Regions from separate parts of the Homo sapiens genome. Here regions 2 and 3 are each linked to region 1. The links come from fine-mapping of genetic effects on plasma protein levels. Region 1 holds a variant in brackets. A gene starts in each other region. All regions are shown on their forward strands.

Region 1 (10,319 bases):
TTCAGAGATGGGCTGTAGCGCTTATCATCATCCCAATAAATGAGTGCAAGCCACTCCAGGGCCTTTCCTGGGGGCTGACGGATCCAGCCCACACCCACTCCACTAGTGCTGAGTGAGAACCCAGAGAAGGTGCAGGTCAGCGTGAGGGTCTGTGTGGGTTTCACCAGCGTAGGACCAGACTCCTTCAAGGTGATCTGGGACAAGACCCCTGTGGAGAAAGCATAAGAAGATGAAGCCCACAAACAAGAAAACTGATGTTTCACCCGTGAAGGAGTCCCTGACCACAGCACTCACATGAAGGGATGGTCAGCAGCAGGAGCGTGGAGCAAAGTGTGTCCATGGTGGGGCACAGGAGTCACTGAGCTGGGACCTGTGCTCGGCTTTTTCAACCCAGAGGAGGGTGGAGCTGGTGGAGATTTGCATTCCCCTCATCTGTGCCCTACTCTATGGGATGGAGTCAGGTTTCAGGACTCAGGAGGGTGTTGCATCTGTGGTGAGGAGCAGTGATAGTAACATGATCAGTGTAATTCAGATGGCATTAATCTAAGGCTGGGCAAGTAGATTCTGAGTAGAAGTCTTTGCAGAAGTCATGATTATGAGGTCATGTTGGTCTTTTTGCAAGAACTATTTTATGATAGTTCTTGTTGTCAGGGATATGTGTGTAAGAATTCTCCCTACACTTCCTGAATCCATTTGTCAGGGTTTTAACATATGTGACTCCATTTTGATTCTTACAAATTTCACAATCTCATCCTAAAAGCACTGGTGGAGAAGGACAGTTTATGTAGCAGCCAATTAACTCTACATCCACCTCCCATTTTAACCAGACAAACATATTTCTTTCACTACAAATGGCCACTTGCATTTCCAGAGAAGCCTATACACAATACAGTGGATGGTCCTGAGCAAGGAGAGTGAAGAAAGTCCCTTCAGCCTCTTCCACATGGCTGCAGTAGCCACAGCCTGAGCCCCAGCTGAGCTACAGGGAAAGGGCTTCAGCCCTTGAATTGAGGTCACGGAGACCACATTTACCTTTTCCAGGGAGCAGGAAAATCCAAAGGAAAAGTGAGAACGACAACTAAAAATAAAATAAATTAGAATCAAAAGAAGCACCAGATCAGTGTTATTAATTTGCATAATTTAGTGTCAGGAGAAGGGTCAGACAAAAAACTTGTGAGGGTCCCCATATTCTATATGACACTGACCATGGTCTACCATCTTTAGGCTGTTATCACCATCCTTAATGACTACTCTAAGGGAGACCCACTAAGGTCTCTGTTCTGAGTGTGATTGGAGAAGACTCAACAGGTCCCAGTGAGCTTCTACATGTCTCCAATTTTGGTGACTATGGTTGAGGGCTTTTCATCTCTGTGTCAATTTGTGTTTTGTCCATGTGAGAGTATGTCCTCAAAACACAATATTTTAAAAAAATATTTGGAGATGTCATTGGTAGGCACAGAATTCTAAAATTACAGAAGTTCCTTGGAGAAACTGTCAGACGGAGTTTTTTTCTTCTTTTTTCAATGCTTGCAGGAAAGCAGTCCTAACCTTTGCACTCCCCTCTGTGGTTGACTGATCAGTGGGTCCTGAGCACCCCCTGCAGCTCATTAGCCCAGGTGTTCCTGGAGGTTTGTGTCTCACACCGGCCTTTCCTCATGTGCTTCTCTTGCACAGTAATGTAGTGACGTGTCCTTGGTTTGCAGATTGCCCATTTGCAGAAACAGCATCTTCTTGACATTGTCTCTTGAGATGATAAATCAAAGACAAATAAATACTCTGTCGGACAAACAAATCCTGAGAAAATCTATTCCCAGCATATTAATCTTGCCATAGACGTTTTAGCAGAGTTTCTAGATGAGCAGCCATATGATATACATCCAATACCTGAATGTATCCAAAAGATAAAGATTGTCAACAATGAAAAAAATGAGGTTTAAATTTAGTTTTTGCATTTGTGTTTTCTTTATTACATAAATGTGTAAAGCAATTATAAAAATGTCAATATTACATTTTTATAGCTTATGTAATTACAAACTGATAAAATAAAAAAGGGATAGAAAAGAGGAATTAGACATATATAGTTATAATATCTCTGTTCTATATATAAAGGGGTAGGCTGGGCACGGTGGCTCATGCCTGTAATCCCAGTACTTTGGGAGGCCAGGTCAGGCAGATCACAAGGTCAGAAGATAGAGACCATCCTGGCTAACACGGTGAAAGCCTGTCTCTACTAAAGATACAAAAAATTATCCGGGCATGGTGGCAGGTGCCTGTAGTCCCAGCTACTTGGGAGGCTGAGGCAGGAGAATGGCGAGAACCCAGGAGGCAGAGCTTACAGTGATCTGAGATTGTGCCACTGCACTCCAGCCTGGGCGACAGAGTGAGACTCCGTCTCAAAAAAATAAAAAAGAAAAAGAAGTACTACATTTTTGAATTAGAATTCAATTATAGAAATGTCTTATTGTTATCCTTATGGTAACCAATAAGATATTCATCAATAATAATTAAATAATAAATTAATAGAAACAATACATATTATTGTAAAAAGACAAAACAACCATTATTGGACAAAAGGGTAATATCATTAAAAAATAATTCCTCATAGTTGACTAAAAAAAAAAAAGACCCAGCAATTATCTTTCTCCAAGAAAACTTCTTAACATATTCACAAAGAGAAGAAATAAGATGGAAAAATATAGACCATGAAAATATAAACCAAAGAAAACTTGAATAGCTATGTTAATTTCAGACAAAATAATCATAAAAAGAATACCTTTGCAACTCAAGTGAAATATTGCATAAAATAATAGGATCAACTTTTCCAAAATCCATTTTAAAAGACCTAATAAATGGATTTGGAACAGAAAATAGACTAACATGTATAGAACATGGAGAAATCAACACTCATTGTGATTGAGAAAACAAGCAATGATTAAATAGGTAAAGATATAAGAGTCCCAAATGGCACTATCAACCTACTTGATAAATTTTTATCTATAAAATATTCAACTAGAAAACTTCAGAAATACAAACTGTCATTTACCAGAAGAGAATAAAGGAACAAGACAACTGAATTCAAACTGATGGCCTTGATGGAATCTGGAAACAAACAAATATACGAAAGCAACAGCAAAGAGAGATTCTGTCCCAAAAAAAAGAAAAGAAGATATCCACTAAAAGGGACAAACTATGAAATATTTAAAATGGCTCATTCTGAGATATATATGAGTTACCAAGGCCCATGACACGACCCCAGGAATTCCTGAGAACACATGTCCAAAATGGCTTGATTACAGCTTGATTTTATATACTTTAGTGGGTCAGAAGTTACAGGCAGATATTAATCAACACATGTGAGCTATACCATTTATGCAGTCTAGAAAGGCAGGAAAGTTTATGCACAGGGTTCCAGGACATAGGAGAATTCAAAGATTTTCTGATTGGCAATTGGTTGAAATGTAAGGTAATACAATCATTACAACTGAGTGTCTGGATTAAGATAAGGGGTCCTGGAGATCATAGTTCTTATTATGTAGATGAAGCCTCCAGGTAGCAGATTTCATACAGAATAAATCATTAGGTTTTGCTATTTGTCATGTGATGCTATACTAGAATCAAGTTGTAATTTGATGTCTTTTTGCTATAGAAAGTGTTTACAGCAAAAATATAGTTTTGCCCGTCTTAAGATCTTTGTTGTAGTACTAATGCTGGCCACTGGTGCCTTAATTCCAAAGAGAGGAGCATGTAATGAGGCATGTCTGACCTCTCACTTTCCCATCATTGCTGGAACAAGTTTTAGAATTTACTTTGAAATTCCCTTGGCTGAGGGTTGAGTTCATTTAGTTGCTTGAGGAAGCTTAGAATTTTATTTTTCATTTACAATAGAAATTATTGGAAAAATGATAAATAAAATAAGGTCTGGTATTGAATATATTTACACTTATCAATGTAAATGTGTTAACACCATGTCTTATGATGATAGAGGATATTCATCTTAGGAGATACTTGGAGATGGGAACACACTGTATTAACTTTATAATTTTTTTATCTATAATTATTCTGAATCAAAAGTATATAAATGTAAAAAGACTATCATAAAAATACAAGTCACAACTGATAAAATAAGTTTCTGAAAATTATACAATTTCAATTACATTTATGAACATGTATTCTGGAAGAAAATATTGAAATTACCATCAAAAAATGACCAATGTTTATTTGTATAAAAAACATTTGAAGCACCAAATACTAAAATCAAGCAAAGAGAGTGCTATTTATATAGTTATTTTATTTTCTATAATATGATTTAAAAAGTGTTATTATAGGCATTTTATAAACCAGTAGTGAGCATAATTATGTTAATTTTTTCTCAATTTTGTGTCAATATCTTCTTAATTTCATATAGACATTTGTTACTGCATGTGTCATTTCCAAAATATTCAGCTATTATTTTTCATATTAATATGACTCCTTTGTTGGCCCTAGGCATTGCATTTTAATATGGACATTTATCAGTTCCCAAAATTAATACTTTTATAATTTCTTACACCTGTCTTTACTGGAATCTCTAAACATAAATTGTGAAGATTTCATTTTAATATGGACATTTATCAGTTCCCAAAATCAATACTTTCATAATTTCTTTAATCTCATAATCCTGTTATCTTTGTAAGCTGAGGATGTAAGTCACCTCAGGACCCTGTGATGATTGCATTAACTGTACAAATTGATTGTAAAACATGTGTGTTTGAACAATATGAAATCTGATTGTAAAACATGTGTGTTTGAACAATATGAAATCAGTGCACCTTGAAAAAGAACAGAACAACAGCGATTTTAGGAAACAAGGGAAGATAACCATAAGGTCTGACTGCCTG[C/T]GGGGTCGGGCAGAATAGAGCCATATTTTTCTTCTTGCAGAGAGCTTATAAACTGATGTGCAAGTAGGGAAGATATCACTAAATTCTTTCCCAGCAAGGAATATTAGTAATTAATACCCTGGGGAAGGAATATGTGATCTTTGCCCTGCTTTTTGCCCCTTAAAGCATGTGATCTTTGTGACCTACTCCCTGTTCGTACACCCCCTCTCCTTTTAAAATCCCTAATAAAAACTTGCTGGTGTTGCGGCTCAGGGGGCATCACGGACCTATCAATATGTGATGTCACCCCCGGTGGCCCAGCTGTAACATTCCTTTCTTTGTACTCTTTCTCTTTATTTCTCAGACCAGCCGACACTTACAGAAAATAGAAAGACCCTACATTGAAATATTGGGGGTGGGTTCCCCCGATAAATCACCTGAGGTCAGGAAGTCGAGACCAGCCTGTCCAACATGGTGAAACCCCATCTCTACAAAAGATACAAAAAAAGAAAATACAAAAATGAACACATATCCAAATATCAAACCAAAACATGAATTTATTTAATGTTATTTTAATTATATAATTGAATCGAATGTACTATTTTATAGTATAATGTAATATTCCAAAATGTTGTTGCTCTGTGTGATTGTTTCACTATCCTAATGCCAATTAACAAACATATTTAAAGGCAAGGTTTGGTAGAAATGAAAATAAATGCCATTCTTGCCAAATTAATTAATGTACAATGGTATTTATGTATAATCGCTGTGTTGGTTTGTTTGTCATTTATGCTGTTAGTATACTTTAAAATACCAATTATTAATACATCTAATAACAAGATAAACATCACTTTAAACACATTTTATTACATTATTGGTTAAATTAACATTGTGTTTTTATAAAGTCAGGATAAAATGTTCTTATTTAGAAATTAGGATTGTTTTCTACCATTGATTTTCCACAAATTTTCAATACAAATTCTAGATGTTTATTTGCCAACACGCCTGGATGCTAGAGAACATCCAGCAATATGGACCTGAAATCAGCCCAGGATCCCCAGAATGCACTCACAATGGCAGCTTGCTAGAGGGTTGTCTGAGAATTGCAAACACATTAGGGATTTGAACTTCATCATCAAAGCACTGGTGAGCCTCAGCGCTGAGCACACAGAGAGCAGCAGGAGCTGCAGAGCCCACTCTGTGGTACTTAGGAAAAGGACTGGATGTTGTGGGGTGATGTCTGCAGGACCCTAGAAAAGGGTGACGATGTCAGAGAGTCTGCGGATAGATGAACATATGCTTTTTTTTTTGAGATGGAGTTTCTCTCTGTCGCCCAGGCTGGAGTTAAGTGGCATTATCTCAGCTCACTGCAGCCTCTCACCCTGGGTTCAAGTGATTCTCCTGCCTCAGCCTCCCGAGTAGCTGGGATTACAGGTGCCCGACACCATGCCTGGCTAATTTTTCTATTTTTAGTAGAGACAGGGTTTTGCCATGTTGGCCACGCTGATCTCAAACTCGACCTCAGATGATCCACCCGTCTTGGCCTCCCAAAGTGCTGGGATTACAGGAGTGAGCCACTGCACCTGACCTACATGAGCATATTGTAAGGTGAACTGTTATCCTTCTAAACATGGTTGGGTTCAATGATCATGAAGAGAAGTGAACAGATTCACCAGACGTGGAGGAGACAAAATAAATAGATTTGTTGCTTCTTTGCCAGGAGACTGAGGAAGACAAAAGGATTTGACAGAAGGGAAGGTGGAGAAACAGTGTGAAGAGCAGAAGACCAGAACCCAACCAAAGTGGAGGAACTGACCCGTGAAAGTGGTGTTTCATCTCCACAAATGGCAGACAAAATGAAAGGAAACTTAACACCGTGACATTGTTGAGTTATTATTAGAAAAGCATTGACTGTAGTGTGACTGGCACAGCACAAGAAACAAAAACCCATGCGTGGAACCAGAGTTTGAATTAGGCATACACAATTTCTTATTATCAAAACACATTGAATTACTATTGCTATTATTATTCTAAAAATATGCAAGGTTAAAAGTTGAATTGAATTCCTATCCTAAGTTAATGATTTGTATGTGAAAGAAACCATGGGTTACAAGGAAGAAATAGTGAGAGATCGTGGGAAGACTTTTGCTTGACCAGCTCAGGAATCAGCTAGGTCTAAAAGCAAACGTCACCTTCCCCAGGCACCTGATGTGGAGCTGCCTCCTAAGAAAACCGTGGTGTCCTGAGTGATTGATTCCCTCGTGGTTACTGAAAGCCCCATGGTGGCCCCGAGCACTCCCTGTTGGCCCTGAACCCCTGGTGTCCTCAATGTTCTTCAGTGGCCATGAGTGTCTCCTGGTTGTCTTGTGGGCCTTTAGGTGGTCCTGTTACACCTGGTGGTTTCTGAGAATCTCTTGTTGGTCCTGAGTGTTTCCTGGTGGTCTGGAATGCACCCTTGTCATTCTGTGGCCCCTGCTTGTGCTGAGCGCCCCCTGGTGTCCTGAGCGCCCCCTGATGTCCTAAGTGTCTCCTGGTGTCCTGAGTGCCCCCTGCTGGTCTTGAGCACCCCTAGTGTTTTGAGCACCCTGCGGCATCCTGAGCACCTTCTGCTATCCTGAGTGTCTCCTAGTGGTTCTGAGTGTCCCCTAGTGGTTCTGAGCACCATTTACCACAAAGTCCCCTCTTGTCTTCCTGCAGGGAAGTTTGCGTCTAGACTCACCCATATGTCCCTCACTGTGTCTCTCACAGTAATACACTGCCTACTCCTCAGCTTTCCAGTAGATAATTTTAAGGGAGATTGTGATGTTAAGTGTTGTCCCCAGGAACTGTGAATCTTCTTTGTGCTGGAGCAGAGCACCACTGAGAACTTCCACTTGGGTCACTCATGGCTACCACCCACTCCAGCCCCTCTCCTCCAGCCATCAGGGCCCAATAAATGCTGCAGTCAGTGAAGGTGAATCTTGATGCTTTGCAGAAGAAGCTAAGAGAATAGCCAGGCTATTTTGCCAAAGACAAAAATATAGATCCAGTAAACCTTTGTGGTTTTCCAGGAATCTGGGGAAAAGGTGTGTGGATTAGGTGAAACACACACTTTTTAATCACAATGAAACTATTTTCATGGTGTTCAATGATAAACACATGGCATAAATAATTTGTGAAAACTCATAATTTTTTGAGACAAAGTGTTAACCTAAATGCATACAACTTCAAAAGTATTTAGCTGGTCATGAAACACAGAATAAAATGAAAGCTGTATAAAAATATCTAACAATGATAAACAGGTTTGTACTAATTTCACTGCAGAAAGGGGGGCATGAATATCAGAAACAAGTATCTTTGGAAATAATTTGATGTTGTGATTGTAAAATATAAATAAGCTGCATATAAGCACGGTATTCTAGTCGATAAACATATTTTCAACAAGGGTCAGTTTAATAATTCTAACACAATTTGTGTATTTTGAAATTGTGCACTAAGTAAATTAATGTCATATGATAGGAAAGGTTTCCTCATTTTTCAATGTCAGATTATGGACAGGCAAAGAAAGAAGGCTACGGATGTCTATGTGGATCTTGGTAGTGTGAAGAAACCAGTATCTTCTTAGGTTTAATGTAATATAGATACAGAAGATGAGATACATAAATACTTTAATTTTGAATTTTTGTGGGTAAATGGTATATGTGTATATTTATGGGGTACCTGACTTTGATATAGCATGAACTGCATAATACTCACATTATGATGAATGGTTCCTACATCCTTTCAAGTATTAATTCTTTGAGTTACCAACATTCCATTTATACACTTTTAGTTATTTTACAATCTATAATTATGTTATTAAGGATTATACTTAGTCTGTTGTGTTATCAAATACTATGTATTATTTGTTATTTCTAACCACTTTTTTCATCCATTGAGCATCCCCAATAATCCCCATCTACCATAGACCTTCCCAGCCTCTGGTGACCATCCTTTCACTCTCTATCTCCACGAGTTCAGTTGTCTTAATTTTTAACTTCCACAAATATATGAGAATATGTGAAGTTTGTCTTTCGGTTCTGGGATTATTTCAATTAATATAATGAACTCCAGTTTCATCCACGTTGTTGCAAATGAAAAAATCTCATTCTCTTTATGGCATAATATTAATCCATATGCTATATGTACCACATTTTATTTATCCATCATCTGTTAATGGGCAGTTAGGATGCTTTCAAATTTTGGCTATTACGAACAGTGCTATAACAAACATGGTAGTGCAAACAACATTTTTTTTTTGTGGGAGGGAGTACATGCCAGCAGCAGGATTGCTGGATTATATGACAACACTACTATTAGGTTTTGAGGAAACTCTAAACTGTTCTCCATAGTGGTTTTATTAACTTAAGTGCCCACCAACAGGTTATGAGTGTTCTCATTTCTCCATATCCTTCCCAGCATTTGTTTCTGTCTGGCTTTTGGATGAAATCATTTTAAAATCAGATGAGATGATATTTCACTGTAGTTTTGTTTTGCATTGTTCTGATGATCAGTGTTACACAGCACATTTTATATGCCTGTTTGCAATTTGAAAGTCTTATTTTAAGAAATAAATATCGCCTGCTTTTTATTCGGATTACTAGATATTTTTCCTATAGAGTTGTCTGAGATCCTGGTATATTCTGATCAATCCTTTGTCAGATGGGTAGTAATGTCTCTTTCTCTCACACTATGAAAGACATGATGTCCTCATTCACAGGTGCATTCCGGGATATACACACAGTATCAATGGAAAAGCAGTCATTAGGCAGTGAGGCCTTTGACAGCCTCTACCTGATGTCTCTTTTTCGGAGTCTGTATCTCTTAACATAACAACTGGATGTTATTCTGTACTCATTGCTGGCATGCTGTCACTGTTTTGTGTCAAAAATTCATCCACATTTTAATGCAATTAAATTTGTTCCTATTTAGAGGGTCAGTTTTTGAGGTTTGTCATGACCCAGAATGTTATTTTTTTTTTTTTAAGAAAATGGGTCTAGCAATATCTTGCAGGCTGGCCTTGAAATCCTGGGCTTGGGTGATCTTCCCACATTAGCATCCTCACTAGTTGAAAATACAGGCACATGGCACAGTGTCTAACTGATTATTCTTAAATTATGCTATTTCTCATTCTCTCTGCTAAACCAAGTGGATATTGCTCTTGTGGAGCTGTCAGCTTTTCATTAATTACTTACAGTAAAAATATATTATGTGTTTTAGGATAACTTCATGGTAAAAATTATTCACAGTCAACTGCAAATATAGTCACACAATTTCCAGAGTGCTGTATCTCTGTCTTTATGCCATGCATCTTTACCTATAAAAATATAACAGCCTCCACCTTAGTGCACATGAAATTATTCATATATCTCAAAGTGATACTCCTGCTTTAAGAGCATAAAACTGTTTGGGAATCGTGGACTTAAATAGTCTCATTATGCCTCT
Region 2 (10,319 bases), not on the chromosome of region 1:
TCATTGTCAGCACCAATGCCACTGTCCTCAGAGCATAAGGGGAGACCCTGCACCCCAGGGTCGCCACAGCCACTCGCCAGGCTCTCTAGCTGCCTCAGAGCCCTCAGGAGGCGTTCATCCACATTCCTTTTTGTGCTCAGCTTATTTTCCAAGTGGGTTGCAGTGGAGTGGAGGTAGCTGCTGGAGCCCTCCAGGAAGCTGCCGGTGAGCGAGGCCACTGTGCCATTGAGCACCTGCAGCTTGCTGACTGTGTACTGTAGCAGCTGTTGCAGGAGATTTGGCTGCTCCTGGGGCTCTCTTTTCTTCAAAGGCCAAGCCAGATCCTCCCTGACTTCCTGCAGGAGCACTTCTCCATCCTTGGAGATCTCCCCCAACAGCTGGCTGATCTCCTCAAAGCACAGCAGCAAGAAGCTGACCATGGGCTGCAGCAGCTCCCGGGTCTGGGTGGCCTGATGGATGATGCACAGAATTGCTTCATATTTGGAGAGGCTGGAGTGTAGATAGGTGTAAGCCTGCTGGTGGGCCTTTACCAGAGGCTCCGGGAAGTCCACTTTGCCTTCAGGCTCATGAGCAGGGTGGATGGTTTGGTAGCAGTGGCTCTGTGTGCTTGACGTGTGACATTTTGCTGTCCTTTTCCATTTGGAAGTATCTTGGGTACTACTTTCCTCACTCTCATCTCCAGAAAAGTCTGCCCCTTGTGATCCATGGGAACCCTGTGTCTTGAACGGAATATCCTTAGCCATGTGGCTTTGTGATTTGTTCAGCTGGGATGAAGAGGTTTTGGTTCCTGGGATCAGTCCTTCCATATCTTTCCTTTTGCCTGAAGCAGGATCTCCCATGAGCTGACAAAGACCTTTAGCTGTGGTTTGGTTCCTCCTGGGACTTGGCTGCTCCTCTGCCAGGCCCTCCCCAGCGTCATAGCAGGTGGAGTTTTTAACCAGCAAAGGGATGGAACCTCTTTCACTTCCGCCCTGACATCCTGGCCGAATTGCTTTGGGCTTTTTCAAGAACTGAATGCCACTCTTTGCAACGCTGTTTACAAGGTCACTGTGTGAAGGTGTACACCCCATGATTTCAGCTTGTAGTCATCTTCCACCCACCTTCACAATTTTCCAAGAATCATATTTGAAATAGGAACAAAAGGCAATCTTACTAGTCCATCCAGGCAATTTTCAGGCCAGAATTCTTTGAAGTCCATGGTACAATATCCTAAACTTGGAACCAGCTTTCTTTATTTTCTTGGTCCAAATGTGAAGAGGGAGTGGTACCTGTCGTCCTGTTGTTGTTCTAAGTTTGGAACCCTCTGCTGTTAGTGAGCAGCGGGACAATTCTGAAGGCTCCCAGCCTGGTGGATTACGGGCCTGTGTTTTGCTCGCGTCCTGACAGATGTGGATAGCAAGTGCAGCTTAAGCCTATTAGGTTAATCATGCCCTAGCCAGTCAGCACTCACAGTGTGTTCTAATATAGAACTTCTCAGCATTTACTATCTTGGGAAGCGGATTATTTTTGCACGTGCTCATGCTTTTAATTCTGTTCAGACGCCTGCCATATGAAACCTAGAGAAATGAGCCATAATTGCAAAGGCTCTGGAAGAGATGCATTTGTGGAAGAGAAGAGAGGGCTCGTTGATTACAGGCCCTGGAAGAGAAGTGACCTTCACGGTTTAATAAGGGCAAACCAGCCAAGTGTGCTCCAATCTGCTGTTATCAAGAAGCCCCCAAAACACACAATAGATAATAATTGAAGTAATGCATTATTGTTTGTGTGGCTTATAAAAACCCCGGGACTCTAGTATAGAGAATGTCTCTAAATAAGATAGTGAATGAAGAAGGCAGGTTGCTTTTCCTTTGCATTAGAAAATTGAGTTAGGTAGCAGGAAAGCTATCCCCCCCAGTTTGGATGGGGACAGCAGGAAAAGTCACTGCCATGTAAAGCTCAAGGCTGGTCACTACGCTCAGGAAGGCAATGCTTTCATGGGAAGAGGCTTCTTATTCAAACTTCTTCATAGGAAAACAAGCTAAAAACTGGGCAGTGGAGAGCCATTTCATTATTAAGAGGAGAACTCAAGGGGAAGCCCATTTTTCTGCTCAAACTGAGCATGGGGCTCCTGCCTGTGGCTAAGGGTAGCAGCTGCCCATTTAAAACCTCCTTTTAAACTTTATTTGCTGTCAGTAAAATCTAGAACAACAGCTTGGCCTAGAAAGACTGGAGTTTGAATCCTGAGTCTTTCTCCTGTTAGTTGAGGAAACTTCTGATAGTTTTTAAGCTTTCCTGAGGCAGAGCTCATCTTTGAAATGAGGACCACGGTACTTACCTCACAGAGCCATTGTGAGGATTGTCAATTAATACTTGGTAAGTGCTTGACCCAAGGTAGGTACTCAAAAACATGCAGTTTCAGCCAGGTGTGGTGACTCAACGCCTATAAATCTCGGCACTTTGGAAGGTTGAGGCAGGCTTATCATTTGAGCTCAGGAGTTTGAGACCAGCCTGAGCAACATGGTGAGGCTGTCTCTACTAAAAATACAAAAAATTAGCTGGGGATGTTGGCACCCACCTGTAATCCCAGCTACTCCGGAGGCTGAGGTGGGAGAATCACCTGAGCCTAGGAAGTTGAGACTGCAGTGAGCTGTAATAGTGCTATTGCAAGCTGGCCTGGACTTTGGAAGTGAGACCCTGTCTTCAAAAAAAAAAAAAAAAAAAAAGTTTCTTACTCCTTTCCCCCTGGAAGCTAGGGCACTTATAATAATGAAAGTCATAAGAATTTCATTGGTTTGCGTTGGTTTATTCCTGAATGGTCTGGAAATAATTGCCTATGATGCACTTAGAGCCCTCTGAATCTGGTGTTCTTTTTGCCCCCCACCCCCACCCTGTGCTCAATCCACTGCTGCCTCAGGATTTTTCTAAGGCCTCATTGTTTAATTTCTCGGCTCTCAAACACAATGATTCCCACTGTCTGCAGGAGGGAGAGGGGCTTTTATTTAACCATTTCCTATTTTTGGGCATCTAGGTTGTTGCCAATTTCGAAATTTTCCAAATAGAAAAACATTGCATTGAGCATCTCTGAGCATCCCCCTGAAGTTGCTGAGATTGGAGTTGCTATTCTGGCTTTCCAGTCTTCATTTTTTCCCACTTCATACAACCAACGAAAACAACACCATGGGTGTCAGGATGTCTCCAAAACAGGCAGGACTTAGAGCTGCCTCTTGTACTAGCTGGAGACTGGCCACTGGGGCTGTGTGCAGCGCCTGCTGCCTATCACAGCCCGATGCCCCAGAGTGCATCATTAATAAACTTCCCCGATCTGTTTATTTGAAGCAGAACTCAGGCGAGACACAAAGCCGAATCAGTGCCTGCAGGCGAGCTGCGTTAGGCATCAAGACGTTGCTTCATTTGTCACAGTGCTGAGCTGGCCCAGTAAACAAGGGTGCCACGTGGGAAGGCTTTCTTTTCCCTTCGGGTCATCCATTTAACAGAGTGAAAAACTCATCTGGAGGATGCTTTATGTAAATTCTTCTTCTCTTGGGATTTGGGCCCCTGCTTGACTCATCTTTGTGAAAAACTTTTATCTAAGTGACTAAAATTATTTCCAAACCAATGATCAAAATCAAAGTGTTTGCCTGGAGGATTTGCTGTCAGATAGCTCTGTACCTTACACATGAGTTTCCTTGACTATTCCAAGTAATTTAGGAAGCTCTTTATTCATTGCTGTTCATTTTTCATTAAGACCAACTTTTGTCTTTCTTTATTTTAAATTGGATTTGCTTCAAATGAAAAAAATTATTTTGAGTGGGCATATAAAAGTACAACTATTTTGGAAAACTGTTATTTAAAAATATACCCTGTGACCCGTCAATTCCACTCCTAAGAATTTACCCAAGAATATTGAACATAAAGGTCTGCAAAGAGACTGCTATAAGAAAATTTATAGTTCTACTCATAATCGCCTCAAATTGGAAACAACCCAAATGTTTATCAATAGGGAAATAGATAAATTTGATATAATTGTACAATGGAATACTACCTAGCAATGAAAGGAACAAACTAATGAAACGTAACAACAGCATAAATTTTAAAATCATTATGATGAGTGAAAGAAGCTAGACATTAAATAGTGCAAGGTGAAACATTCCATTTTTATGGAGTTCGGGAACAGGCAAGTAATCCATAGTTATATTAAATAATTAGAAAAGTGGTGAATCTCTAGGAAGAGCTATCAACTGGTTGTGGACATGAAGGAATTTTTTTTAGGGTATTGGAAATGTTCCACATCTTGACCTAGGTGGTAGTTATATGGGTATATACTATATAGGCAAAAATTCCTTGAGTTGTACAATGAAGTTGCACACTCTATGTTGCACTTGCGTGTACACACACACACAGACACACACACATCTAACTAAAATGCGGTATTGTATGCTTTGCTTGGCGCCTAAGAGGGTCCTAGCTATAATGCTCTAGGTCTTGGAAAAGGGTCCCTCTATTAGTTGTCTGTTTTTGTATAACTACTCCAAAAATAAGGAGCTTGAGATAACATCTCACAGTTTGTGTGGGTCAGGAATTTGGGGGCAACTCAAAAGGATCTCTCATGAGTTTGCAGTCAAGATGTCAGCCGGGATTGCAGTCATCTGAAGGCTTGACTGGGGTTGGATGATTCTCTTCAAGATAGCTCATCTACATGGCTGTGATAGCTCACTCACATGAAGGCCTCCATTCCTTGCTGGCTGTTTGCAGGAGGCCTCAGTTACATGTCACATGGACCCCTCTGTAGGGCTGCTCGAGTGTTCTTACAACAGAACAGCTGGCTTCCCCCAGAGCAAGTTCTAATCCCAAAGGTCACCTTCACTTCCTCCATATTCTATTCTGTAGAAGCTGGTCACTGTGTAGAGTCTACATTCAAGGAGAGAAAAATTAGGCTCCACCTTCAAAAGGTCACTTGAAAAAAAAAGATCAGGCCATATCATAGCTCAAACCAATGCATCTAGTGTAACTATACTAAACATTAGTTTATAAGGTACTAGTCTTTCCCCTTTAGCATGTTAAATAAATTCCATGCCATTTTGTTTGATGTGGCCCTGAACTAATTGATCAGCAAAAGATGGTTCTAGTGTGACATCAGTTTTGAGCCAAGACTGAAAGTCATTTAAACAATCTAAGAAATGTTTTACCCCTCAAAGTCTATCAGCCTCACCAAAGGGGCTCTCCTGTACCTTAAAAGCCAAGAAAAATTTCCCACTAGTCAAGGCCTACCTAGGACATACCTGGTCCTCCATATCTGAAGGAGTGCTTTTTGCAACACAGTTCCTTGGTCTGGATGTGAGATGAACAGGTAACAGAGAGATAAGCACGCATCTATTGTGGTGAGCTGGCGGGGAAGGAGGCCATGTTTGTGTCCCACGCACTTCATTAGGCACTCACTTTACATTTATCTTTTCAGAAGCTGGCCTTCCTTGCTTTGCTTTGGAGGATCATTAAAAGAACCATTCTGGCTACTGTTATATACCTTAGAGCAATCCATCCAGAGTTGCTCGTGGGATACACAATTCTATCAGAAACCAACATGTGATATCCAGGTGTCTGCCCTAAGTAGCTTTTGATTTGGTGATGATAGTAGAAACACCTGCCTGTTTTTCTTGAATCTTAGTGTGCATGGCGTATGGTCTGGATCAGTCATCACACAGGTACATTGTACCTCTGGAGGTTGACTCTTTAAACCTTTAAGATGCCTCTAAGTATCCTCCAAAGCAAATTTCATGTACACAAGGTAGTGTATGTTTAGAATCAAAGTATCCTAAATGTACCACAAGCTTGAAAAACATTTATCTAGTTTTTTTGTATGATAGAAAGTGTTTTATTGAAATAGATTCAATTCTTACATATAAATTAGAGTTTTTTTTTTAAAGGGTAGGCTAACTTTTGTAACTAACAATCCCCAAATATCAGTGACTTGGCACAGTAAGAGTTATTATTGTTTATACAATGCCAGTGTAGGTGTTGGGACATTCTCTTAAACAGCCCTACTCCACATGGTGACTCAGGGATTTAAGCCCTTCCATCTTGGAACATGAACATCTTCAATACATGACTTACAGGGCGGAAAGGGAAGAGAGTATGGGGAAGGTAGGTCAGATCCTTGACTGTCTTTGCATGGAGTTGACACCCATCATTTCTGCTTACATTCTGATGGGCAGGACTTATCACATGGCCCTACTTAGATGCAAAAAGGGCTGGGAAATGTAGTCCACAGGCCCTTTCTTCATTCCTACCTTTTCTTCTACTCCCCAAGCCTGTGAAATATCCTCAGATCTTTGCCTTTGTCCCCTAGGTATGAGTCTCTCCACCTGTAACAGAGGATTGTCCCTGTCCTCTGGAACTTAGCTCTGGTGTGAAGACAAGATAGCTTGGGGAAAGAAATGCTAGGCTTTGAGTCAGAACACAGCACACAGGGAAGGAATTAATTGAGAATTCTTCCCAAACTGTAAGACCACTGCTCAGCCATGTTATCAGAAGAACCTACGGGAAAACTGTGTCAATGTCCTTATGAACTGTGGGATGGTTTGCTAATTCCCTGTAGGGAAATAAGAGCAGACTCGAATTTCTTGACTTTTGACTGGTTGTTTATTTGTGTATTTACTTTTACATGTATGTACTGTCATGGGATCCTTAGGGTGTTGCTTTGCCAGCTGGAAACCTCTGTGGCTAGCAGTGCCTCTGTTTCAGTTTTGCTCATGCCTGCTGGGCTCCTTCTGCTCACTTGGCCCATCAGGTTGCGCGTGGCTCCTGCTTTCAGCCCAGATCCCATACCTGCCAGGGTGTGTGAGTGAGCAAGTGCAGGGTCCAGCCACTGCACACAGCCAGGTGTGCCGGCTGTGGTGGGGCAGGCAGCTCCAGGCGCCCGCACAGGTGCCGGCTCTGTGCAAGGCTGCAGCTGGACCAGACGTACTGCAAGCAGCTTCTGCTGTGGGCACCAGCATGTGGACAAGGGGAAAGCAATAACACCAGAAAGGTCAGATACCAGGAACCACAAAGCCCCAAAGAGGGAGTTACAGCATGTCATAGCCATGACTTGGGGATCCCTGAGGTCTGGGCTCCCAGAAGGGCTGCAGCTCTTCTCTCCTTCTCGTCACTCACAATGTGGTGAGTGGGGGGCATGTTTCAGGCCTGTTTGTGTTACAGCTCTTTCAGTCCCACCATTCAGCTGGTCCTGAGTTCTTGTCCCATGTCCAGGAAGAATGAGGCACGTGGATAACTGGAGAGTGAGCAAGATAGTAAGGAGCTTCATTGAATGACAGAATAGCTCTGAGGAGACCCGAAGTGAGTAGCTCGTTTCCACAGGCAGGCCATGCTGATGAGTGTCCAGGTCTCAGTGGAGAGGAGACCCATAGTGGGCAGCTCCTTTCCACAGGCAGGTCATCCTGACCAGTATGCAAGTGTGGCTGAATCCAGGGATTTTATGGGCTCAGAAGGGAGGAACTGTGTGATGATTGGTCCATGGGTGGCCATGGGTGTGCCTGGAAAAAGCACCATAAAGTTTCGCTCTGGGTCATGGACACCACCTGGGACTGAAAGCCTGGCCCCCAGGCTTCAGGCTGTCCCTGGTTTGAAAGTGGGGCTTCACTGGGGACCCACCCCTTCCCTCCTAGGAACCTGTCTGACTCCTGCCACCATCAACATGACCTCCATGGCACCCAGGCTGTTCACACCAAGGGGCACCTGCAGGCTTGCGTTAAGCCTCCCTCAGCCCTCCTGGCCTCCCTTCCTGAGCTCGTTGGTGCTCAAAGTTTCAGAAGGTGCCAAGGCAGTGGAGGATGTCTGGCATGTCAGTGCTGCCCTGAGCGTGTACACACCTAGCCGGGCCATGACAGCACCCAGGCTCAGGCTCTGAAATTGGAGCGGGTGCCAGGAGTTGGGAGAGGCCAGGGAGTAGGAGCAGGCACTTCCAAGCCTGTGGGAGCTTGGGGCTAGCCATGCCCCTGAGAGTACAGGGATGCCCGGGTCTGGAGCTGTGTTGATGTGGCTGCTGCTGCACTGGGGAGTGAGGTGCTCTTGACCAGCCAACTCGGTAGGGGGCGGGACTCCCACCTATTACTGCCCTCCTCTGGCTCGGTGGAACGCATAGCCCCAGCTTCACCTTCCCCACTGCAGCTGGCATCCCCACAGCAGCTGCTCCAAATAGGCCACCGCCACCATCAGTACCCTGGGCTTTGGAAAGATAGTGGCTGCTACTTGTACAAACTTCTCAAAATAGACTCTTCACTCTAGTTATTGCTTATGAATTTGTGAGTAGACATTTGTGTGTGTGGCAAATTTGAGGAAAGACATTGGGTCATATGAATTCATCATAGTGGGACATAAGTCAGAACTGAGTTTCACAATTTCCCAGGGTTATGCAACAAGAGTCAGACTAGCTCAGAGTCTTTGAAATATTGTAGACAACTCAAATATTGTGTGCATTTTTCTCAGAAAAAGTTACAGTATTTAAATTTTTATTGTATTATAACTTCGTCTAAAGTCTGCTCTTAGACTGAAGAGCAGATAGCAGATTCAGTTCCCCTTTACATTTATCCATAAGGATGGTTTGTCTGTGCTGAACGGGGGAATGGGACATCAACCACTGCTTATAACCCTGCTTATAACTTTTTAATGTTATTGCTGGGAAATTTCATTCCTGCTTGCTCATGACTTAAAAAAAAATTCTATTTATACATTTAGAATTACCATGACAAAAATAGGCCCCCTCCCCTAAAAAAAACCCATAAGTATTCATAATAATATTTAAAGGAGATAAATTACCCAAGACTGACTCTGAAGAATAACCCAGGGAGGTGATGATTAAAATACTTCGGCCTTGTGAAAGGAGCATATCTTTGGACCAGATTAATATCCTTTTGGCATTTATGCAGAACAGGGAGTTGATCTCTGTAGATTCTAATTTACAACAATGTCAACATTTAAAATAGACTACTAATAAAGACACCAAGAACAAACATGCCTCTAACCTGAGGTACATCAAATAACCCTTCTTTGGTGTTTTGACATTAAATGCGAATAAATAGAAAAAGGGAACCAATATTATGAACACATTTAAACTATGTTTAATAATAATTGTATGAGCAGCTCACATCATTAGCTTTTTTTTTTACTTTGTGCTGTTAGTGAGGTATAACTGACACATGTATTTAAAATATACAGTTTGATGAGTTTACACACACACATGCATCCATGAAACTTTTGCAGGACTTTTCCTTAGTTCAGTTAAAGACGGGGTTCTTTGTCCTATGGCCTTGAAAATTCAGGCTTGCAGACCATTGAGTAAGATGGGGTTTTATTGGGTAAAAAGAGAGAAAGGGGGGAAACAGACTCTCGCTAGACCAGAGTCCCTGCTAGAGCACTTCCCACCCACCGTTCGAATCCCAGGTTCCATACAGGAAGAGGAGGGACAGGGCTCCTCCCCGCTGCAAAGGGCATGAACTTCCCGAGGCTCCACCTCAGTGGGTAGGCTGGTTGGAGTTTCTCCAGGGACCCCCACCCACCTGGCTGTCTCAAAACCATCACCACAGTCAAGATAATAAACATATCCAACAGTCCCAAAAGTTTCCTCATGGCCCTTTGTAATCCCTCCCTATATACCCCTTCTCATCCACCTAGGCAATTGTTGATCATCTTTCTGTCACTATGGACTAGCTGGCATTGTTTGGGATTTAAAAATTTATTTTTGTAGAGAAAGGGTTTTACTTTGTCATCCAAGCTGGAGTGCAGTGGTGCCATCACAACTCACTGCAGTGTTGACTTCCTGGGCTCAAGTGACCCTCTCACCTCAGCTTCTTGAGTAGCTGGGACCACAGGCATGCACCATCATGCCTGGCTAATTTTTAAAGAGACAGGGTCTCGCTATGTTGTTGAGGCTAGTCTCAAACTCCTGGCCTCTAGTGATCCTCCCATCTTGGCCTCCCAAAGTGTTGGGAATATAGGCATGAGCCACTGTGCCCATCCTTGAATTTCATACAGATTTATTTTTTTGGTTTAGTTTCTTTTTCTCAGCATGGTTATACTGAGGGTCATTCATGTTACTGTATGCATCATTAGTTCAGACGTTTTCATTGCTGAGCAGGATTCACACATGATTAGCTTTTTTTTTTTTTTTGAGACAGAGCCTCACTCTCTCACCCAGGCTGAAGTGTAGTCACCCGATCTCAGCTCACCACAACCTCTGCTTGCCAGGCTCAAGCAATTCTCCTGCCTCAGCCTCCCGAATAGCTGGGATTACAGGTGTGTGCCACTACCGCCCAGCTAATTTTTGCCTTTTTAGTAGAGATAGGGTT
Region 3 (10,319 bases), not on the chromosome of region 1:
TCCTGGCCCTGCCATGAGACAGGAAGAAGAGAGAGCAGGTGTTTCTCTGAGGTTGCTGGGGATGATATAATAGAACTGAAACTCTCAGCCCTTTCCCTGGAGAAGCACAAAATGCTGCCTTGGATGGTATGTGCCAGATAAGACACATGAGGAGCCAGGCACAGTGGCTCATGCCTGTAATCCCAGCAATTTGGGAGGCTGAAGCAGGAGGATTGCTTGAGCCCAGGAGTTCGAGATCAGCTAGGCAACATGGTAAGACATGAACTCTCCAAAAAAATTAGCCAGGCATGTTGTTCCGCACCTTTAGTCCCAGCTACTCGGGAGGCCGAGGTGAGAAGATCATTTGAGCCCAGGAGGTTGAGGATGCAGTGAGCCATGATTGCACCACTGCATTCCAGCCTGGATGACAGAGTGAGATCCTGTCTCAAAAAGCAAACACACACACACACGAAAGCAAGAAGCAAGACAGCTGTGGAATTCCAGAGATAGGAGACAGGCAAAGAACCTGACCTGGTGCAACGAAGATAAAGGTAACGGAGCCAGATGAGGAGGCTTAAATGCCTTACAAGAGTTAGGCGTTCAAGTTACAAGTCTTGGCCAGGCGCGGTGGCTCACGCTTGTAATCCCAGCACTTTGGGAGGCTGAGGCAGGCGGATCACGAGGTCAGGAGATCAAGACCATTCTGGCCAACATGATGAAACCCCGTCTCTACTAAAAATACAAAAAATTAGCCCGGCGTGGTGGCATGTGCATGTAGTCCCAGCTACTCAGGAGGCTGAGGCAGGAGAATCACTTGAACCTGGGAGGTGGAGGTTGCAGTGAGCCAAGATCACACCACTGTACTCCAACCTGGTGACAGAGTGAGACTCCGTCTCAAAAAAAAAAAAAAAAAAAGAGTTCAGTCTTGATGGGCTTCTCTGTGAAGAGACCCTAAAGGATTTGAGCAGAGAAAAGACCAGTTGAAAGCTATGTTTAGGCCAGATGCAGTGACTTACACCTGTAATCCCAGCAATTTGGTAGGCCAGGGCAGGAGGAGCCCAGGAGTTCAAGACCAGCCTGAGCAAATAGCAAGACCCCATGTCTACAAAATTTTTTTTAATTAGCTGGGAATGATGACGCATGCCTGCGATACCAGCTACTCAGGAGGCTGAGGCAGGAGGATCACTTGAGCCCAGGAGGTCAAGGCTAAAGTCAGCCACGATCAAGCCACTGCATTCCAGCCTGGGTGGCAGAGTGAGACCCTGTTTCAAAAAGAAAGAAAGAAAAAAAAAAGCTATGTTTAACCTGATAGAGGATAGAGTGTAGGGTGGCATGGGGCAAGAGCTATGAGAGTGTAATAGGGAGGCTGAGAACACCCTCATGGGAGGTGATGAGGGATTCAATGTGGGGAGGAACTCACAGATTCAGGAGCCACTTAAGTAAAAGTTGAGAAAATTTGATGTCTTTCTGGGTGCAAGATTAAAGCTTTCCAGCCTGGCTGACCTAGTAGATGTTATTTTTTCCACTGATGGAGACAAGAAAGTCAAAGGGAGATGAATTTGAGGAATATTGTGAGATGAGCGTGAGGCTGGTTGAATTTGAGCTAAAACCAAGATATTCAAGTGAACATAGGATCTGGAGGCATCAGTTTTGGAGGCAACTTCTGGCAGAGTGAAGAGCTGATTCCCTGAAAGGGGATGGGCATTGTTAGGAAAGCCACAGGGAGAAAAAAAGACCAAGGCTTGAATCTTGGAAAATGCTACACTCCATATCAGACCATCCACTAGCACTCTTCCACACTCTACTGTAATCCCAATTCACCAGACACTCCAACACCTCTATCCCTTCCTGCTGCTGAGGGAACTTATAAATATTGAGTTACTCTGAGCTGGTCTTTTTTTTTTTTTTTTTTTGAGATGGAGTTTCGCTCTTATTGCCCGGGTTGGAGTACAGTGGCACGATCTCAGCTCACCACAACCTCCACCTCCCAGGTTCAAGTAATTCTCCTGCCTCAGCCCCCCGAGTAGCTGAGATTATAGGCATGCGCCACCACGCCCGGCTAATTTTGTATTTTTAGCAGAGTTGGGGTTTCTCCATGTTGGTCAGGCTGGTCTTGAACTTCCGACCTCAGGTGATCCACCAGCCTCAGCCTCTCAACATGCTGGGATTTCAGGCGTGAACCACCGCGCCCGGCCTCTGAGCCAGTCTTAACACCTAGTCAGCTTGTTCTCCCATTAAATCCTGAGAACAGACCTGTGAGGTAGATCTTCCAGACCCATTTTATACAGGCAAAACTGAGACCCTGAGAGATGAATCAATTCATAGCATGTGAAGTAGTTTCCCTGATTTCCATTCAGTAGGGCACCTACTATGTGCCAAGATTGGGGAAAATAATGATATTGGGCCCTACCCTCTAGAGGCCACAATCTGGACAGAGATAAGGTAGGCACGTAAATAAGGATAAAGTAAGGTGAAGCCCAGCAGCTCCAGGAGACGTAGAGATAAGGTCTTCTACAGTCCAAAGGGCTGAAGGCATCACAGGCAGCTTCCTGAAGGAGGTAGGCACTGATGCAAGTCAGGCCTGGAGGATCTGGGGGGACGTGCTATAACAATGACTCTTGTCCCACAGGTACTGTGTCCGGGGATTGCAGCCGTTCGGGCAGGGGGCAAGGGCTGCTGTGGTGCTGGGTGCTGTGGAAACCGCTGCAGGGTAAGATCCAGATTAAGAAGGAATTCAGGGCTGGGGGTGGTGTCTCATGCCTGTAATCCCAACACTTTAGCAGGCTGAGGTGGGAGTACGGCTTGAGCCAGGAGTTCTAGACCAGCCCAGGAAACATGGCAAGATCCCTATCTCTACTAACAATACAAAAATTAGCCGGGCGTGGTGGCAAGCACCTGCAATCTCGGCTACTTGGGAGGCTGAGGTGGGAGGGCCGCTTGAGCCCAGGAGGTCCAGGCTGCAGTAAGCAGTGATTTAAAAAAAAAAAAAAAAAAAAAAAAAGAAGAGAAAAGATACAGAAATTAGCCAGGCGTGGTGGCGGGCACCTGTAATCCCAGCTACTCAGGAGGCTGAGGCAGGAAAATCACTTGAACCCTGGAGGCAGAGGTTGCAATGGGCCGAGATCACACCATTGCACTCCAGCCTGGGCAACAAGAGTGAAACTCTGTCTCAAAAAAAAGAAAAGAAAAGATACAGAAATTAGCCTGGTGTGGTGGTGGGCGCCTGTAATCCCAGCTACTCAGGAGGCTGAGGCAGGAGATTACGGTGAGCCAAGATTGTGCCATTGCATTCCAGCCTGGGCAACAAGAGCAAAACTCCGCCTCAAAAAAAATGTATTTTTATTTTATTTTACATTTATTTATCTTATTTATTTTAGACATAGTCTTGGTCTGTCACCCAGGCTGGAGTACAGTGGCACGATCTTGGCTCACTGCAGCTTCCGCCTCCCTAGTTCAAGCCATTCTTGTTCTTCCAGCCTCCCAAGTAGCTGGGATTACAGGCGCCTGCCACCACACCCAGCTAATTTTTATATTTTTAGTAGAGACGGGGTTTCACTGTTGGCCAGAGTGGTCTGAAACTCCTGGCCTCAGGCGATCTGCCCCCCTTGGCCTCCCAAAGTGCTGGGATTACAGGTGTGAGATATCGTGCCCAGCCTCGAGTCAGGTTTAAAATAAATTTCCCTTCAAACCCCGGGCTTGCAGTTAGGCTAACCTGAAAGCCAGCGGCCGCCGAGATTCACTGGGGTTGTAGTTCCCCCCTCTCCCCTTCACCCGCCTACCCCTCAGGATCATTGAGATCTGAGATTTGTGGGTGCCAGGGAAGGGTGGGGTGGGGCCTGGGAGTCCGCAGAGGAGCTTGTGTAGCTAGGAATTCCATAGAGAGTGCTGTGGTTCTGCAAGGACAGGTGCAGAAACAGAGTCCGAATTTCTAATTTTTTTTTTTTTTTTTCTTTTTGAGACGGGGTCTGGCTCTGTCGCCCAGGCTGGAGTGCAGTGGTGCGATCTCGGCTCATTGCAACCTCCGCCTCCCATGTTCAAGCTATTCTCCTGCCTCAGCCTCGGGCATGTGCCACCACACCCGGCTAATTTTTGTATTTTCAGTAAAGACAAGGTTTCTCCATGTTGGCCAGGCTGGTCTTGAACTCTCGACCTCAGGAGATCCACCCGCCTCAGCCTCCCAAAGTGCTGAGATTACAGGGGTGAGCCACCGCGCCCGGCATTAAAAAATACATTTTAACAACCCGACTGGAGCAGATTTCGATAATGCGTGGGGGCTGGCGCTGAGCGTCGTCACCCACAGGTGGGGAGATTGGGCCTTACCTCCCCTTCCACACCACATCCAGATGCTGCGCTCGGTCTTCTCCTCGGCGTTCGGGGTGCTTGGTGCCATCTACTGCCTCTCGGTGTCTGGAGCTGGGCTCCGAAATGGACCCAGATGCTTAATGAACGGCGAGTGGGGCTACCACTTCGAAGACACCGCGTAAGGTTTAGCCTGTATTCGTGTCCTCCATTCTCTGCCTCTTCCCTCCCGCCCTTCCCCCGTGGACTGGGACACCTGGGCGGGACTCGACTTCGAGGGCACTCGCTCCACGTGGGCTACCTGGGCCTTAGCAAATCCCCTGGGACGTATTCTTGGGGGCGGGGTGGCGCACGCGCACGCTGCCTTCTCCCACGTGGCCTCACCCCTCCCACAGGGGAGCTTACTTGCTCAACCGCACTCTATGGGATCGGTGCGAGGCGCCCCCTCGCGTGGTCCCCTGGAATGTGACGCTCTTCTCGCTGCTGGTGGCCGCCTCCTGCCTGGAGATAGTACTGTGTGGGATCCAGCTGGTGAACGCGACCATTGGTGTCTTCTGCGGCGATTGCAGGAAAAAACAGGTGAAATTTCTTGCGGTGGAGTTGTAGAGGGAACCTGCCTGGTCCTGGCTGCGTTCTCACCTTCTCTTTTCCGCAGGACACACCTCACTGAGGCTCCACTGACCGCCGGGTTACACCTGCTCCTTCCTGGACGCTCACTCCCTTGCTCGCTAGAATAAACTGCTTTGCGCTCTCTTCTCTGTCTGAGATTGTGCCTTCTGTAAGGAGGAGTGTGCGAGAGGCTACGGATACACCTGGCCTTTGGGGCCCCTGCACCCCACTTGTACTTTCTTAACGAATAGATACTGAGCTATTTGGTTGCGCTGGAAATAAGGACGGTAAACAAGACAGACAAGTTTTATTCTCTCAAAGAACTTGGCATTCCAAGAGTGGAAGATAGGCAATTTTTAAAAGAAGCAAAAAATTATTTCAATAGGTAATAAGCACTTTTTTTTTTTTTTTTTGACAGGGTCTCGCTGTCACTCAGGCTGGAAGGCCGTGGTACGATCTCGGTTCACTGCATCCTCCACCTCCTGGGCTCAAGCAATCCTCCCGTCTCAGCCTCCCAAGTAGCTGGGACCATAGGCATATGCCACCATGCCTTGCTAACTTTTTTGTATTTTTTGTAGAGACGAGGTTGCCCAGGCTGGTCTCGAACTCCTGAGCAAAAGTAATCCTCCCACTTCAGGCTCCCAAAGTATTGGGATTACAGGCTTGAGCCACCGTGCGTGGCCGATAAGCACTTTTTAAAAGCATGTTGGTAATGGGATTGATATTGACTTATGGAGAGACTCTCTTTTATGACAGGGAAAATTTGAGAAAATGAAATTTGAGCTAAGATCAGGAAGGCTTGCTAACCATCTGGATATTTGGGGGATTATAGGCAGAGAGAACAGCAAGGACAAAGATCCTAAACAGGGATCAGTTCTGTAGGAGAAAATAATGAAAACTATGGAAAAGACACTGTAACCTCTTAAGCTCTAGAAAATGGAACTGTAAAGCCATTGTGGCCTTGTCACCTCCTAATTTGATAGAATTTTTTTTTTTTGCTTTTTTTGACAGGGTCTCACTTTGTCACTCAGGCTGGAGTGCAGTGGCACGATCTCGGCTCATTGCAGCCTCCACCTCCTGGGCTAAAGCAATCCTCCTGCCTCTGCCTCCTGAGTAGCTGGGACTACAGGCGCACACCACCATACCCCTGCTAATTTTTGTACTTTTTGTAGAGAGGGGATTTCACCATGTTGCCCAGGCTGGTCTCCAACTGCTGAGCTTAAACAATCCACCCACCTCAGCCTCCCAGAGTGCTGAGATTACAGCTGTGAGCCACCACATCTGGCCATAATTTGGTAGAATTTTCTTAATCTTAGGTCACTGGTTCAGAAAGGAGACAACCTAGGCACCTAATGGGGGCAGGGTGTCTGCAGACTCTCTCAGAAAGCCAGACTTCCTGGGCCCGCACGATGGTGCAAGCCGGTAATCCCAAAACTTTGGAAGGCTGAAGCCAGTGGATCACTTGAGGTCAGGAGTTTGAGACCAGCTTGGCCAACATGGGGAAACTCCATCTCTACTAAAAATACAAAAATTAGCTGGGCATGGTGGTGGGTACCAGTAGTCCCAACTACTCAGGAGGCTGAGGCAGAAGAATCGTTTGAACCCAGGAGGTGGAAGTTGCAGTGAGCCAAGATCATACCACTGCACTCCAGCCTGAGTGACAGAGTGAGACTCCAAAAAAAAAAAAAAAAAAAAAAGCCAGACTTCCATCACTTGTCTGAAAATTATCTGTTTAAGTGCGTTTTTCTCGAGTCCATAACTTTTCAGCAATCTACCATAGACCCCTGAGACCAAATCCAAATGTATGCCTCACCTAATGCTAAGTTAGGAGGGGAAAAGGAGACTCAGTTCCCCATCCCTTAAACAGGCGAGACCAGCCGGGCATGGTGTCTCACGCCTGTAATCCCAGCACTTTGGGAGGCCAAGGTGGGCGGATCATGAGGTCAGGAGATCGAGACCATCCTGGCTAACACGGTGAAACCCCGTCTCTACTAAAAATACAAAAAAAAAAAAAAAAAATTAGCCGGGCGTAGTGGCGGGCGCCTGTAGTCCCAGCTACTCGGGAGGCTGAGGCAGGAGAACGGCGTGAACCCGGGAGGCAGAGCTTGCAGTGAGCCGAGTGAGCCACTGCACTCCAGCCTGGGGGACAGAGCGATACTCCGTCTCAAATAAATAAATTAATAAATAAATAAATGAAATAAACAGGCGAGACCAAAGTCAACTCAGAGAAGCTTTAATAGCAAGAGGTGGGACTAGCCTCCTGGCCCGGGAGAGAGCGGCGGCGGCGGCGCCGTTCAACTGCGGCAGCAGAATAAGCGCGCGTCGTTCAGCGCAGTGTCATCGCCGAGGCCTCTAGGTCCCTGGATCTTGGTCTGCAGGCCGCACGCGCCCTTGGGGCAATGGTCACTCCAGTCTCCAAAGTCTCCCCAGCTCAGCCCAGGCCCCTGCAGTTCCTCGCCGTCTGAACAGCGGAAGCGCACGTTGTTCGCTGCTGTGTTGTCACCGAGGGTCGTGGGTGCCTCCACGCGAAGCGAGAAAGCCACTAGGTAGGCGCCGCCGCGACACCACAGCGGCTCACTCCATTCGCCCCAGCTGCAAGGCAAAGGGAGATGCGTTGCCTCTGCGGGCCCCCCATTCACCAAGCCCTTGAGACTTTCCAAGCCAAGTGCTGTGTATATGACCTGGTGGGCTGGGTGCTCCCCGACCTCCGCCGAGGAGCGGAGGAGGGGTCTTCCATCCACCCTTCGCCTCCCCGGTCTATACTGCCCCGTAGCTCTGGCGGAGCCAGCCTGCCTGTTGCGACGGAGTATGTAATAGAGGGTAAGGGACATACCATCACCCCAAGGGATCCTCGACCCCTGCGCCCCACCTTCCAGACTGGGACTCTACCACGTGCGTATTGCCTAGGACGTTCCCGCGCGCGCAGTGCAGCCTGATCCCATTCAGTGCAGTGTCGTCGCCAGGAATGCCTTGGGGAGGCTCCACCTGGGTATCGAGGAGAGGGGCAAGGGCGAGTCACGGAATTATCATCCTTGGCTCTATGGTCCCACGCATCTCCGCCCTCTCCAGGACCTACGCCTGAGCCCCAACCTTGAGCGAGAACCCGCTGGCGAAGAATCCATCGGGACACATCTCAGGCCAGGCCCAGTCGCCCCAGGGACCCCCGCTGGTCACTTCGATGACCGCCGTGTAGCCGTTCCGGCCATCTGTCTGTGCACATGTGAAACCAGTCGCCCGCAGAAGCAGCAGCAGCGGCAGCAGCTTGGCTCCTGCGCCCCGCTCCATCCTGTAGCGTCTGTGAATCAGGCCTCCTAAGCAGATTTATATCAGTTTGGCCTCTGTGAGGGCTCCGATTGCGGAAGGGCCTCCCAGATTAAGTGAAACCCAAAACTAATCCACTCCCGGAACCCTATTTCCTGCTCCCGGAGGCAGAGGCTCCCAGAGCTAGGGTAGGAGGGGCAGTGAGAGAGGGCGAATTAAAATAACCATCACCTACTGAATATTTACTATAGGCTACGAATTATGGTTAGCGCTTTGCAGTATTTTGTTTAACCCTCACAACAATTTTTGGGGGGTGAGAATTATCCTTCCTATTTTGTAGATGAGGGAACTGGCTCAAAAATGGCAAGCAACTTGCCTTAGGTTTACAGCCAAGCAAGCTGGGAAACATTCCAGCAGTGAGAGTGGAGACAGAGCAGAGACCAGGGCTAGGGATGGAAGTGACCTCCCGGGAGTCCCACCAGTGACGGGATGGGGCAAGAGCAACCCAGAGACCTCCAGGATGTGAGGGGACATCAGAGTGAGGATAGGACAAGAATCCTCGAACTGGAGAAGCTGAGAAAACTCCTGTCAGCTCAGAAGTCTCTTCCTCCTCTGAGAGGTCTTCTGAGAGCTCAGGGCCCTAACACCTTGAGAATCCGGGACACTCCTCCCTACCTTAGAAGAAGACATATACAAACAGAAATAATTCTTTTTTATTTTTATTTTTTGAGTCGAAGTCTCACTCTGTCGCCCAGTGGCGGCATCGCAGTGGCGCGATCTCGGCTCACTGCTACCTCCACCTCCTGGGTTCAAGCGATTCTCCTGCCTCAGCCTCCCGAGTAGCTGGGACTACAGGCGCGCGCCAAGACGCCGCCCCGCTAATTTTTGTATTTTTAGTAGAGACCGGGTTTCACCGTGTTGGCCAGGATGGTCTCTATCTCTTGACCTTGTGATCCGCCTGCCTCGGCCTCCCAAAGTGCTGGGATTACAGGCATGAGCCACCGCGCCCGGTCCAACAGGAATAACTCTAAGAAGTTTGGGGACAGGAGACTAAGAACCCCTAAGAAAAGATCATGCTGTTTCTTCCATTGCTTTCTGTATCCTTATATCCTTTCCTGGAATGCCTTTCCCCCTGTGACCACCAGATGGACTCCTAATTTGCAAAACAAAAAGCGAGAAAATCTGGCTAAGTATGTTTTTTGTTTGTTTGTTTGTTTGTTTGTTTTGAGACGAAGTCTCACTCTGTTGCCCAGGTTGGAGTGCAGTGACGCCATCTCGGCTCACTGCAACCTCTGCCTCCCGGGTTCAAGCGATTCTCTTCCCTTAACCTCCCGAGTAGCTGGGATTATAGGCGTTCGCCACCACGCCCGGCTAATTTGTATATTTTTAGTAGAGACGGGGTGTTGCCATGTTAGCCAGGCTGACCTCAGGTGATCCGCCCACCTCGGCCTCCCAAAGTGCTGGGATTACAGGCGTGAGCCACCGTGCCTGGCCTAAAAATGCCTGGCTAAATTTGTTAGGGGCCACAACCCCAGATTTACCTGCCCCTCATACACACTCCTTTGTTTATTCAATACCTATTTAGCAATAATATGTTTTGGCTTAAGCAATATTCCACTTGCTGTAAGCAAGAATAACAAGGCCCCTGTCATCAGAGGTCACATTCCAGTGGGGGAGACAGAGGATAAATTCTCCCCCAGTGGACCTTGAGCTCTGTGAAGGCACTTTTGTATTCTTGAAGCCTAGTACGTGCGGAAGTACTTAATAAAAGTTGGTGCAATGAATGATTGAAGAGCCAATCTGGAGTTTTGAAAATTAAACCACAAAAATGCAAAAGGATAAAGCCTGACGTACGTATATGATTGCAAGAGGTCATGTATCCAGGTCAAGACAAAGTCCCCTGGGAATAAGATAGAGAATTTAGAAGTGGGTGTTCCCGGCTGGGCGCGGTGGTTTACGCCTGTAATCCCAGCACTTTGGGAGGCCAAGTTGGGCGGATCACAAGGTCAGGAGTTCGAGACCAGCCTGTCCAGTATGGTGAAACCCTGTCTCTACTAAAAATGTAAAAATTAGCCGGCACTTTCCAGCCTGGGCGACAGAGCGAGACTTTGTCTCAAAAAACAAAAAAACAAAAAACAAACAAAAAAAAAAAGAGAGCGAGAGAGAAGTGG

Which allele goes with the higher level. Alleles are on the strand shown, and positions count from the first base shown. The strength of an association depends on the size of the effect and on how common the allele is.
For the plasma level of the protein whose gene starts at base 1,332 in region 2, allele C in region 1 goes with a lower level than allele T (strong association).
In carriers of allele T in region 1, the plasma level of the protein whose gene starts at base 8,184 in region 3 tends to be lower than with C alone (strong association).

What was found. PIP is the chance, under the fine-mapping model, that this variant and not a neighbour inherited with it causes the effect. Protein levels are from antibody-based Olink assays in UK Biobank. Linkage for the fine-mapping came from a reference panel and not from the study's own genotypes, which makes the PIPs less certain.
Region 2: it holds the start of PCARE, and the variant in region 1 is fine-mapped to the plasma level of the PCARE protein (UK Biobank, PIP above 0.99).
Region 3: it holds the start of VMO1, and the variant in region 1 is fine-mapped to the plasma level of the VMO1 protein (UK Biobank, PIP above 0.99).

What each region holds. Positions count from the first base shown.
Region 1 is chr14:106,038,006-106,048,324 of GRCh38, forward strand. It overlaps IGH, IGHV2-5, the pseudogene IGHVIII-5-1 and the pseudogene IGHVIII-5-2. Among named protein-coding and RNA genes, the nearest start is that of FAM30A, 130 kb to the left of the region's middle. The variant C/T (reference allele first, on the strand shown) is at 4,878.
Region 2 is chr2:29,073,192-29,083,510 of GRCh38, forward strand. It overlaps PCARE (photoreceptor cilium actin regulator), which reads right to left and starts at 1,332. Exons shown (of 2, transcript NM_001029883.3): 1 at 1-1,332. The coding sequence starts at 1,070. RefSeq lists enhancers at 7,523-8,023, 9,794-10,033.
Region 3 is chr17:4,778,181-4,788,499 of GRCh38, forward strand. It overlaps VMO1 (vitelline membrane outer layer 1 homolog), which reads right to left and starts at 8,184. Exons shown (of 3, transcript NM_182566.3): 1 at 7,978-8,184; 2 at 7,757-7,872; 3 at 7,105-7,479. The coding sequence starts at 8,172. The coding sequence ends at 7,182. It overlaps TM4SF5 (transmembrane 4 L six family member 5), which reads left to right. Exons shown (of 5, transcript NM_003963.3): 2 at 2,609-2,689; 3 at 4,323-4,459; 4 at 4,674-4,857; 5 at 4,934-5,031. The coding sequence ends at 4,948.